3 linked regions of the Homo sapiens genome follow. The protein of the gene in region 3 purifies or fractionates together with the protein of the main gene of each other region. This does not show direct contact. Each region holds a gene or a part of one and is shown on either strand. Other genes may lie near its edges. The genes, in order: UGT1A7, SGK3 and CYP19A1.

What was found.
Region 1: the proteins of CYP19A1 (region 3) and UGT1A7 purify together in Homo sapiens (affinity purification with mass spectrometry; one large-scale study listed by BioGRID and IntAct). This does not show direct contact.
Region 2: the proteins of CYP19A1 (region 3) and SGK3 purify together in Homo sapiens (affinity purification with mass spectrometry, with the first as the bait; one large-scale study listed by BioGRID). This does not show direct contact.

What each region holds. Positions count from the first base shown.
Region 1 is NC_000002.12:233,768,866-233,771,475, forward strand, and holds part of UGT1A7 (UDP-glucuronosyltransferase 1A7 precursor), read left to right. Parts: intron 1-2,610.
Region 2 is NC_000008.11:66,845,241-66,848,900, forward strand, and holds part of SGK3 (serine/threonine-protein kinase Sgk3), read left to right. Parts: intron 1-1,952; coding exon 1,953-2,108; intron 2,109-3,660. Other genes in the region: C8orf44-SGK3 (serine/threonine-protein kinase Sgk3), read left to right, coding at 1,953-2,108.
Region 3 is NC_000015.10:51,227,040-51,230,699, forward strand, and holds part of CYP19A1 (aromatase), read right to left. Parts: intron 895-3,660; coding exon 740-894; intron 1-739. UniProt on the Homo sapiens protein: A cytochrome P450 monooxygenase that catalyzes the conversion of C19 androgens, androst-4-ene-3,17-dione (androstenedione) and testosterone to the C18 estrogens, estrone and estradiol, respectively.

The sequences.
Region 1 (2,610 bases), on a different chromosome or scaffold from region 3:
GAGCCAGCGCGTCTGACCTGGATTTATAAATAAGATAATTTAGAGGTTATTATTCACTTTATAAAAGGATTCTTTAGTTTCTATATAATTTATCATATAATTTATTTAGAATTTTATTTCCCCCATTAGATTTAAAACTCCAATTTACATAAAAAGTTGCCATAATAGACATCTGATCCATAAGTTTCCTGCACAGAAAGAAATACTCCATTATAAGAAGCATAGTATCTTTAAGAGAAAAACAACTCAAATGCTTAGAAGTACAGCTTTTTGCAGCACTGGAACCTGTGAGAAATTTTGTCCATGGAGTTTATGAATGAAGGAGCTATAAGATATCACAGACAAAGTCTTAGAATAAGAGCAAAGGAAAATTTGCTCAAATGTGGCCCTGAAAACGATTCAAAGGGCAAATGATTTCTGGATTAAAGTTAGTATATTACTGTCAAGCTCACTGGTAATAGGCTTATTAGAACCTTATGGGAAGAAGTGGTGGCCAGTGGTAGATTTCATCCGACAATAGATACTGTGTGCATATGTGCGTGTGCGTTTGTGCATGTGGCTGTGCTCATGTGTGGGTGCACACGTGTGCATTCATATGCGTGTGTGTGTGTGTGCGTGTGTTTATGAGAGTGTCCATTGCTTTCTCCCATGGTTACCTCCTTTAGAAAGAAGCAGCAGTCAGGAAGACAGATGTGAAGAGCTGGAGCATGTTCAGATGAGAGGAGACGGAACACGGGGACACACCAGCTTGAGCAAGGGACAACAGGGGAGGACTGATGACTGACTTCCCACCTTTGAGGTGCTAATGTGTGTGTGGTGGCACTGGATAAAAGATCAATGTTGGCTAGGCACCATGGCACACGCCTGTAGTCCCAGCCACTCTGGAGGCTAAGGCGGGAGGATTGCTTGAGCCCAGAAGTTGGAGGCTGCTATGAGCCGTGATCATGCCACTGCACTCCAGCAACCTGGGCAACAGAGTGAGACCCTGTCTCAAAAAAAAAAAAAAAAATGAAAAGTCCACATAACCTGAGCATCATGTGCCCAGAGCGTTGGGTGGTGTGGTCCCATTCCTTCCTTCCAGCGGCTTCTTCTGGCCACCTCAATGTCAGGATGTCCTGCTCACATATCAATACCATTAAAACCTGACTTCTTTCCCTGCACTGTTGAAGCTCCTTCTTGAGGCTCACATTATGGATATAATTTTGATTCTTTCTTCAGTGGTATAGATAACTACTTGTAACCTAAGAACAACTTGGTGAAAGTCCTCTAATACATTATTTTTTAAAAAAACACAAATCAATGAGCTCAACTTATTAACTAACTTTCATCTATTCATTTTTGAGCCATCCCTGTCTGATTGTGAATCTCCATGATTCCAACACTCTGAGCTGGGGATAGTGCCTACACAAAATAAAAAGAAGTGGAAAATTTTCAAACATCAGTTTATGCTGACAACCAGGCCATAATAGGTGCTCAATTACTATTGAATGAATGAATGAAAGTTCTGGCCAGGTACGGTGGCTCATGCCTGTAGTCCCAACACTTTGGGAGGCCGAGGCAGGTGGATCACTTGAGGTTAGGAGTTCGAAACCAACCTGACCAACATGAAGAAACCTTATCTCTACCAAAAAAATATAAAAAAATTACCCAGGCATGGTGGTGTATGCCTGTAATCCCAGCTATTTGGGAGGCTGAGGCAGGAAAATCACTTGAACCTGAGAGGCGGAGGTTGCAGTGAGCTGAGATTGTGCCACTCCACTCCAGCCTGGGCGACAGAGTGAGACTCCGTCTTACTTAAAAAAAAAAAAAAGAAGGTTCCAAGAAAATTCATCTTAAGGTTTATGTAAAAGGAAGATGATATTTAACATGATTCATGGCCAAGTACTAATATTACATTATAATAATGTTTCCAAATAACATTATAGATATGTTTAAAGACAGTGTATTAGGCTGTTCTTGCATTGCTGTAAAGAAATACCCAAGACTGGGTAATTTATAAAGAAAAGAGGTTTCATTGGCTCGTGTTTCTGCAGGCTGTACAGGAAGCTTAGTGCTGACATCACTTGGCTGCCGGGGGAACCTCAGGGAGCTTTTACTCATGGCAGAAGGCAATGCGGGAGCTTGCATGTCACATGGCAAAAGCAGGAGCGAGAGAGAGTTGGGGGGGAAGGTGCCACACACTTTTTAATGACCGGCTCTCACAATAACTCATGAAAACTCACTATCAGGAAGACAGCACTAAAGCACAAGGGATCCGACCCCATGATCCAAACACCTCCCACCAGGCCCCATCTCCAGCACTGGGGATTACAATTCAACATGAGATCTGAGTGTGGACAAATATCCAAACTGTATCAGTCAACAGCGATCATAATTAGTCCTGAATAGGAGTGCCTTTTTTTTTCTTTCTTCTCCCTTTTCTTTTCTACTTCCTCCTCCTTTTCCCTCTCCTCTTCAATCTCCTCTTCATTCCTGTAGCACCAAGGGTTGAAGCACCTAACCCGTTTTGGATTGAGATGTTCTGATTGGGCAATGAACACTGTCCAGAATAAACAGAAATCCATTTTGCACTAAGTGGCTGCACAGACCCTGCCTCATGCTAAATCTAGC
Region 2 (3,660 bases), on a different chromosome or scaffold from region 3:
ATACAAAAACTAGCCTGGCACAGTGGCATGCCCCTGTAATCCCAGATACTTGGGAGGCTGAGTCAGGAGAATCACTTGAACCTGGGAGGCGGAGGTTACAGTGAGTGGAGATCATGCCACTGCACTCCAGCATAGGCAACAAAGCGAGACTCCGTCTCAAAAAAAAACAAAAAACAAAAAAAGTCATATTTTAAAAGATAAGCTTTTTCTTTCCTACACAAAGGAAAGGAAAAGTGGCAAGCCTATAAAACTCCCTTAACTTTAAAAATTATGTATACTTTAATTTTTATTTTTACTTTTTTTGAGACAGAGTCTCACTGTGTTGCTCAGGCTGGAGTGTAGTAGAATGATCACGACTCACTGCAACCTTGACTTCCCAGGCTCTGATGCTTCTCCCACCTCAGCCTGCTGAGTAGCTTGGACTACAGGCATGCACCACCCCACCTAGCTTGCTTATTTATTTATTTATTTATTTATTTATTTATTTATTTATTTATAGTAGAGACAGGGTGTCGCCATGTTGCCTAGGCTGGTCTCAAACTCCTGAGCTCTAGTGATCTGCCCACCTCAGCCTCCCGAAGTGCTGGGATTTCCAGTGTGAGCCACTGTGCCTGGCGTCACTTTTTATTTTGTAAACTTCTGTATTGTTTGGATTTGTTACAACAAGCATATATTACTTTTGTAATTTTCACAAAAAGAGACTGAAAAGAAAAAAATGTCATTTTAATGTTTTAAGTCAGATTCATCTTATTTTATAAAAATACTGGTAACTAATATTTAAAAGGTAAAAACAAACCCACAAGGGTAAAATATTAGAGACCAGTCCTCTGGTGAATAAATTGGGTTTTTTTTTGTTTTTGTTTTTGTTTTTTAAAAAAGAACAGTAACATTTTACATGGTAATTCCCTCTTTGGAAAAATGTTTCTGGTGCTCTGGACACATTAATTCAAAAGGAAGTAGTTTTGTAGGTTACATATTACAACCTTGCAGATAGAACCTGAGTAGCATGATAATCTTCTTTCCTCTTATTCCCAGAGTACAGAAACCTGTACAGCTCATTTTTTTTCTCAAAAGTTGTTACTTTATTTATTTGAGATGGGGTCTCACTCTGTTGCCCAGGCTGGAGTGCAGTGGCGCAATCTCAGCTCACTGCATCCTCCGCCTCCCAGGTTTAACCGATTCTCATGCCTCAGTCTCCTGAGTAGATGAGACTACTGGCGTACACCACCATGCCCAGCTGGTTTTTTATTTTTTCAGTAGAGACGGTTTCACCATGTTGCCCAGGCTGGTCTTGAACTCCTGGCCTCAAGCAATCTGCCCACCTCAGCCCCCCAAAGTGCTGGGATTACAGGCGTGAGCCACCACGCCTGGTCTTTATTTTTACTTTAAACCTTTATAATTAGATGATTAACTAGCTAATGCTTGTGTTGAAGCTATACCCCAAGTCTTTTGGCTGTTGCGGTGGCATTTTTAATTCTGCAAAGTACAGTCATAATATTATCTCTGTCATAAGTACCTAAGAAACATTATCTTCAGGCCTCCATCTCTACTAGAAATCCCTTTGTTTCAGTGAGTTTATTCCCAAGTCTGAAATTAATGTTTGATCTGTCTTGAACTTCTATTTCCAATGATTCTGTCATTATGCCTATGATAAGGTTGGTGGTTTTCTCTAAAACAGGTACTACTACAAGTTGTATATAATTTAACAGCTGTCTACAAGGTGCTATTGAACAAACTGGCCCTAATTCATTCAGTGAACACTTATTAAGCTCTGTGATGTGTTCGGTTTTAGAATCTCTTTGCTTCAGGAAGCCACACTGCAGGTGTCTACACGTCCCAAGAGGTCCATACATTTTTTCAACTGACTGCTCCCTCAAGATTAAAGCCATTTTAACCCCATTTGCGCATAATTTGTTTACCACTAAGTTTATTTTGCTTTTTTTTTTTTCCAGCCTCCTTTTTATTGCCGAGATGTTGCTGAAATGTATGACAATATCCTTCACAAACCCCTAAGTTTGAGGCCAGGAGTGAGTCTTACAGCCTGGTCCATTCTGGAAGAACTCCTAGAAAAAGACAGGCAAAATCGACTTGGTGCCAAGGAAGACTTTGTATGTAACAGCTTTTCTAGCTCCAGCTTTATTTAAGCTTATTTAAAATTTGGAAATAAAGCTTTATTTTATATGGTATTTAATGGAATGAATACAATATGCGGAGAATAGCAACATGGAAAAAAAGCATACTTGTCTCCACAGTTTTCACCTGTATTTATATAAAACTATGTAGTATTTAAAGCACTTTCTGTTGCATACACTTTTGCCCTATCCACCACATACACTTTCGCACCCTATTATTTACTTGATTTTCATTTATTACAAATTCCCCTCCCCTTCTTTTTAAAAAGTGTTGTGTGGCATATTTTCACTACCTAAACTTTCTTTTGCTGTTTTTATTGCTAAATAATACTAACATTTTCATGAACTAATAACACAGAGACTAACCAACTAGTAAGCTTTTTGTTGAGGGTTTGGGACTATCTAAAGTCTAAATCATTTCCTTTAGCAGGAATTTGTTAAGTGCCTCCTGTCTGCATGAGGTAATGTCTTTTGCCTTGAACACTAAGTCACTTTTTTTTTTTTTTTTTTTTTTAAGAATTTGGTGAGACCTCCTTGAGATAATTAGGGAATCTGCATGTTTGTTTCAAATAAGGGTAATTAAATTTGTAGTGTAGTTACCGGCATTATGTTAGTGTGTCAGTAAATGCACAAAAATATTGAGGAATATGAACTTTTGAACTGCTTTCTCAGATATTCTTGGAGGCTGCTTATCAATTTTGAACTTGAGCTGTGAATAAAAGACTTTGCTGCTACTGCTTTACCCCTGCTCCCCAGTTCAGCTGGTAGCTCTGCCAACAACTTCCTTTCCGTTGTTCCAGACAGTCTTGCTAATATTTCACACCTCCTTGTCCCTTGGTCCATTTATTGAATTCATTGACAGAGATTGCAGCTCTAGATGAATCCAACTATCATCTCATGGGCTGCTGAACAGTGCTAAAGAAGGTAACAAACTGGGCATATTGGAAGCACTGTGAACCTCGTCTGTGCTTCCCCACTGTCTGGTAATACTCTTTGTTTCTCTGTGTAGCTTACTCTCTTCCTCTCTGTATTAACTATTTCACACCTTCTCTCCAGACTTCCCAGATTCCTTTTCTTCTTCTTCACTTTTAACAGATGATCTTGCCTTCTATTTTGTAAGGAAAATAGAACCATTAGAGTGGAGCTAACTTAGCTTCCTGCTATCAAATCCACAGACCTATATACACTTGCAGGATCCTGTCATTTTCTTCTTCGTATTGTAGTGGAAAAGGTCTGTTTCCACCTGTGCACTGTATCCTGTCCATTTGTAAGGAACCCTGTCCATGTTTGTTTGTTTTGCACAAATAACTGCTCCCCTTTTTTTCTGGTTCCTTCCAGTCAGTAATTAAATGTTATCAAATCTGTTGCTTCTTAAGCCAAAAAAACCCTCAGTCTTACTCTCCTGAGAGGTACTACTCTATCTCCTTCCCTTCTTAGCCAAACTTGTTGGAAGTTTTCTTTGTTCAGTCTCCCTTTCCCAAGCTCTTTCATTTCTCAATCTACCACAAAATAGCCAGTAGAATTGCTG
Region 3 (3,660 bases):
TCAAACATATGGGTGACATGCTAAATTCTTAACTGAAATTACTCTAAATATATAGCTACATCTCTTCTTTTGCCTATAAAATTGCTTTGCACATCAATAAGAAGAAAAGAATTTGTGGTGATTAAGAAATATAGGCTTCAGGGCTATATTCCGGGCTATCATTTACTAATGTTTGGACCTTGGGCAAGTTACTTAACCTCATTTTCTGTGAATTGTAGGAGATAACAACATTTACCACATGGGGCTGCCATTCAAGTGTTTAGAACAATGGCTACAACAGAGTAAAGGCATAATGAATGTTAGCTCTTCCTCCTTTATTGCAGTAGAATTCAAAATATGATTTCAGACTAGGAATGATAGCTCATGCCTGTAATCCCAGCACTTTGGGAGGCCGAGGCAGGTCAATCGTTTGACTCCGTGAGTTTGAGCCCAGCCTGGTCTCAAATATGGCGAAACCCCATCGCTACAAAAAATACAAAAATTAGCCAGGCATGGTGGTGCACATCTGTAGTCCCAGCTACTCGCGAGGCTGAGGTGGGAGAATCGCCTGAGCCTGGGAGGCGGAGGTTACAGTGAGCCAAGGTCGTGAGCCAAGGTCACTCCTGCCTGGGTGATAGAGTCAGAGCCTGTCTCAATAAATAAATAAATAAATAAATAAATAAAATATTTTAAAAATATGATTTCAAAAAAGGCACATTCATAGACAAAAAAGATTGTAGCTAACTAAGTACCTGCTTACCTTTCATAAAGAAGGGTCGAGTTGTTTTCCAGAGCTCTGGATTGTTGTTAAATATGATGCCTTTCTCATGCATACCGATGCACTGCAGCCCAAGTTTGCTGCCGAATCGAGAGCTGTAATGATTGTGCTTCATTATGTGGAACATACTTGAGGACCTGAAAAGACAGGAAACTTTGGTGTCAATTTTTAAGGGTCAGGAGAACTCCTGGTGGTACATTTTGACTAGGAGGTAGCTCTCTTAGCAAATGCATGTTGCTCCAAATGCAATGTGCATGATTTCTAGTATTCGGGTTGAATAAGCACTTCTGTTAGCATGAGGACATCCTTCTCCAGTTGAATCATTTCTACCTACTGACTCCCTGTTTCAACATCACCAAAGATAGAAAACACACACACACACCCATATACCATTCCTTACTTCTCTTTCTTCTCTAACCTCACCAAAATACTACCCACTACTGGAGTCAGAGCTGCAAGGCTGCTAAGAAGCTGAACCCTCCATACCACCAGAGCCAGAAGAACCTCCAGCCTCCCAGGTATCATCCAGCCTCACTCCACAAAGTGCCACCCACTACAAGAGTGAGCCACAGAATCAGAAGTTTGTGGAATTACTAAAGTCTTGTTTTCCTATTTTGGAACCAGCAGTTTTGCCTAGTACCACCCAACTCCAGTCTCTAATCAGGCCTGCCCCCTCCAGTGGAGTATCAGTCAGGGCTTGAAAAATATCTCCTTGGGCACTTCTTCTAGCCCTGAGCTTGGCCAGCGCCTGGCTGGACTGGCATGCAAAGTTCACTGTGGTAGTAAAGGAAGCTATTTTGGGGCTCTGCCTTCCATCATGACTCATCAAAGTCTCCAGGGTCACAGAGTTCTCCCACGACACAGGATGTGATGAGTCATGAGACAGGGCAATTTGCATGATGCTCAATTATGCAAATTCAAGATGCATTAGATGTCATTGGTATTATCTTGATTTTAGATGTTGTTGTTACTTTCTTGGTGAACTTAATATTTATACAAAATTTCATGTATTAATTGCAACTTTGGTCCTCCCTCTCCTCTGGTCTCCTGAAATTTTGTTTCACAGCTGCAAATTCTCCCACTATGGAGGTTTTCAGAACAAATAACCCTCAAAGATTGCAAGTGGTTACTATAATATCTGCAATTGGTTCTCAGGTTGGAGAGACTTGCTCCTCCATCTCCTAGTTGACACTTGGCTCCTAAAAGGATACTTTTGCCTTAATGAGGTTGTTCAGTTAATGCCTGTTGAAATACATTCCCAGAGGACTCTAGACCAAAAAAGCGCTGCTCTGGTTCAATGTATTAGGTTGTGGGCTAAGTATTAATCCAGCTCTCACATCTGCGATGTGTTCCATAGTCCTATTTAAGCTTTAAAAGTAAGCCCCTGAAATAATGGTAGTGTCAAGAAATTAGAACAGGATTATTATTGTATAATAATATATAATATATAAGGTGTGGTAGTGTGTGCCTGTAGTCCCAACTACTTGGTGGGCTGAGGCAGTAGGATAGCTCGAGCCCTGGAGGTTGAGGCTGCAGTGAGCCATGATCAAGCCATTGCACTCCAACCTAGGTGACAGAGCAAGATCCTATCTCAAAAAAAAAAAAAAAAGCAGAGTTATTGTATAAATAACTTATTAATATTTATTTCAGGAAAAACCACCTATTTTCAAATAAAAACACTATTAAATATTCTCTTGATCTGATTCCAGATAATATTCATCAAATAATCCTAAGTTTTGGACATGTTTGCCTCTCCCTAGCAAAAATAAATAAATAAATAAATAAAAATCCAGATGCTTCCATTTGTATTCTGGGGAATTTGTCTGACGTTTCAAATTTTGTCATATATAGAAAAATTATGCTATAGGAAGGAATGAAATTCTTACTAATTAAAATATTTGAAAACTCTAGCTTTACTTACCTTCCCCTCCATCATTCTATAATTAAAGCAGAAATTAAGTAATTTATATATTCTTTATTCACAAACTAATATTTAAAAATTTTAAGCACTTAAAGGACAAACACTATTTTTCTGCTCTGACCCTGGGGCTTTTGCATACTGCATTAATCATATTGGCCTGTCCATTTCATTTAAGAACTTGCTAATCAGTTTTAAAAAGAGAGTAAGAAACTCCAAACATAAAACAAACCCAACGAAATATTTGCTAGTTATTAGTAATAAAGAGCCAACCTTTAAAATTCTTGTGTCCTTTAGGGGGCACCAACTTCTCAGCTATTTTGAATCCAAAGCTCAGGCTTGTTAGGGACAAAGCTAATCAGGCCGATGTGATAAAGCAAGGGATGTGTGACTGGCCACAGATGAGCAATTTAAAACAAGGTCACTTACTAAAAGTAGGCTGGATTTATCTAACCAGAGTAAATCAGAAAAGTGAAGAGAAGGTCAGTGATGAACTAAGGACCCCAGCCCAGAGCTCCTCCTGGCAGTCAAGACAGGCCTGGCTCTGGCTTGTGGGCCAGCCTGCAATACTGCCAGAGGCAAGTGTTATACTGATTATTTGGGAGAGTGAGGATTTCTTAGCACTGAGGAGAGTCCAGCTGAGTCCCCAGCCTCAGCAGGGACAGTGCACAGCGTTGGGTGTCTGATCACTAGGGTTATTATCCCTCATTAAGCATGATTGAAGATAAAAGACATCTCCAAAGATGGCAAACCTATTGTCTGTTCAAAATGAAAAGTAGTCAGGGAGTAAGCTCTTAGGTGATGAGAAGAAAGCCACCTGAGTTCTGGGATTAAACAATTCACACACTTGTGGGCAGATTCAACAGTGATGAGGAGGCAATTAATGGACTAATTGGTGCCTTCTTTTTTTTTTTTTTTTTTTGAGACAGAGTCTCACTCTATCGCCCAGGCTGGAGTGCAGTGGCGCAATCTCAGCTAATTGCAA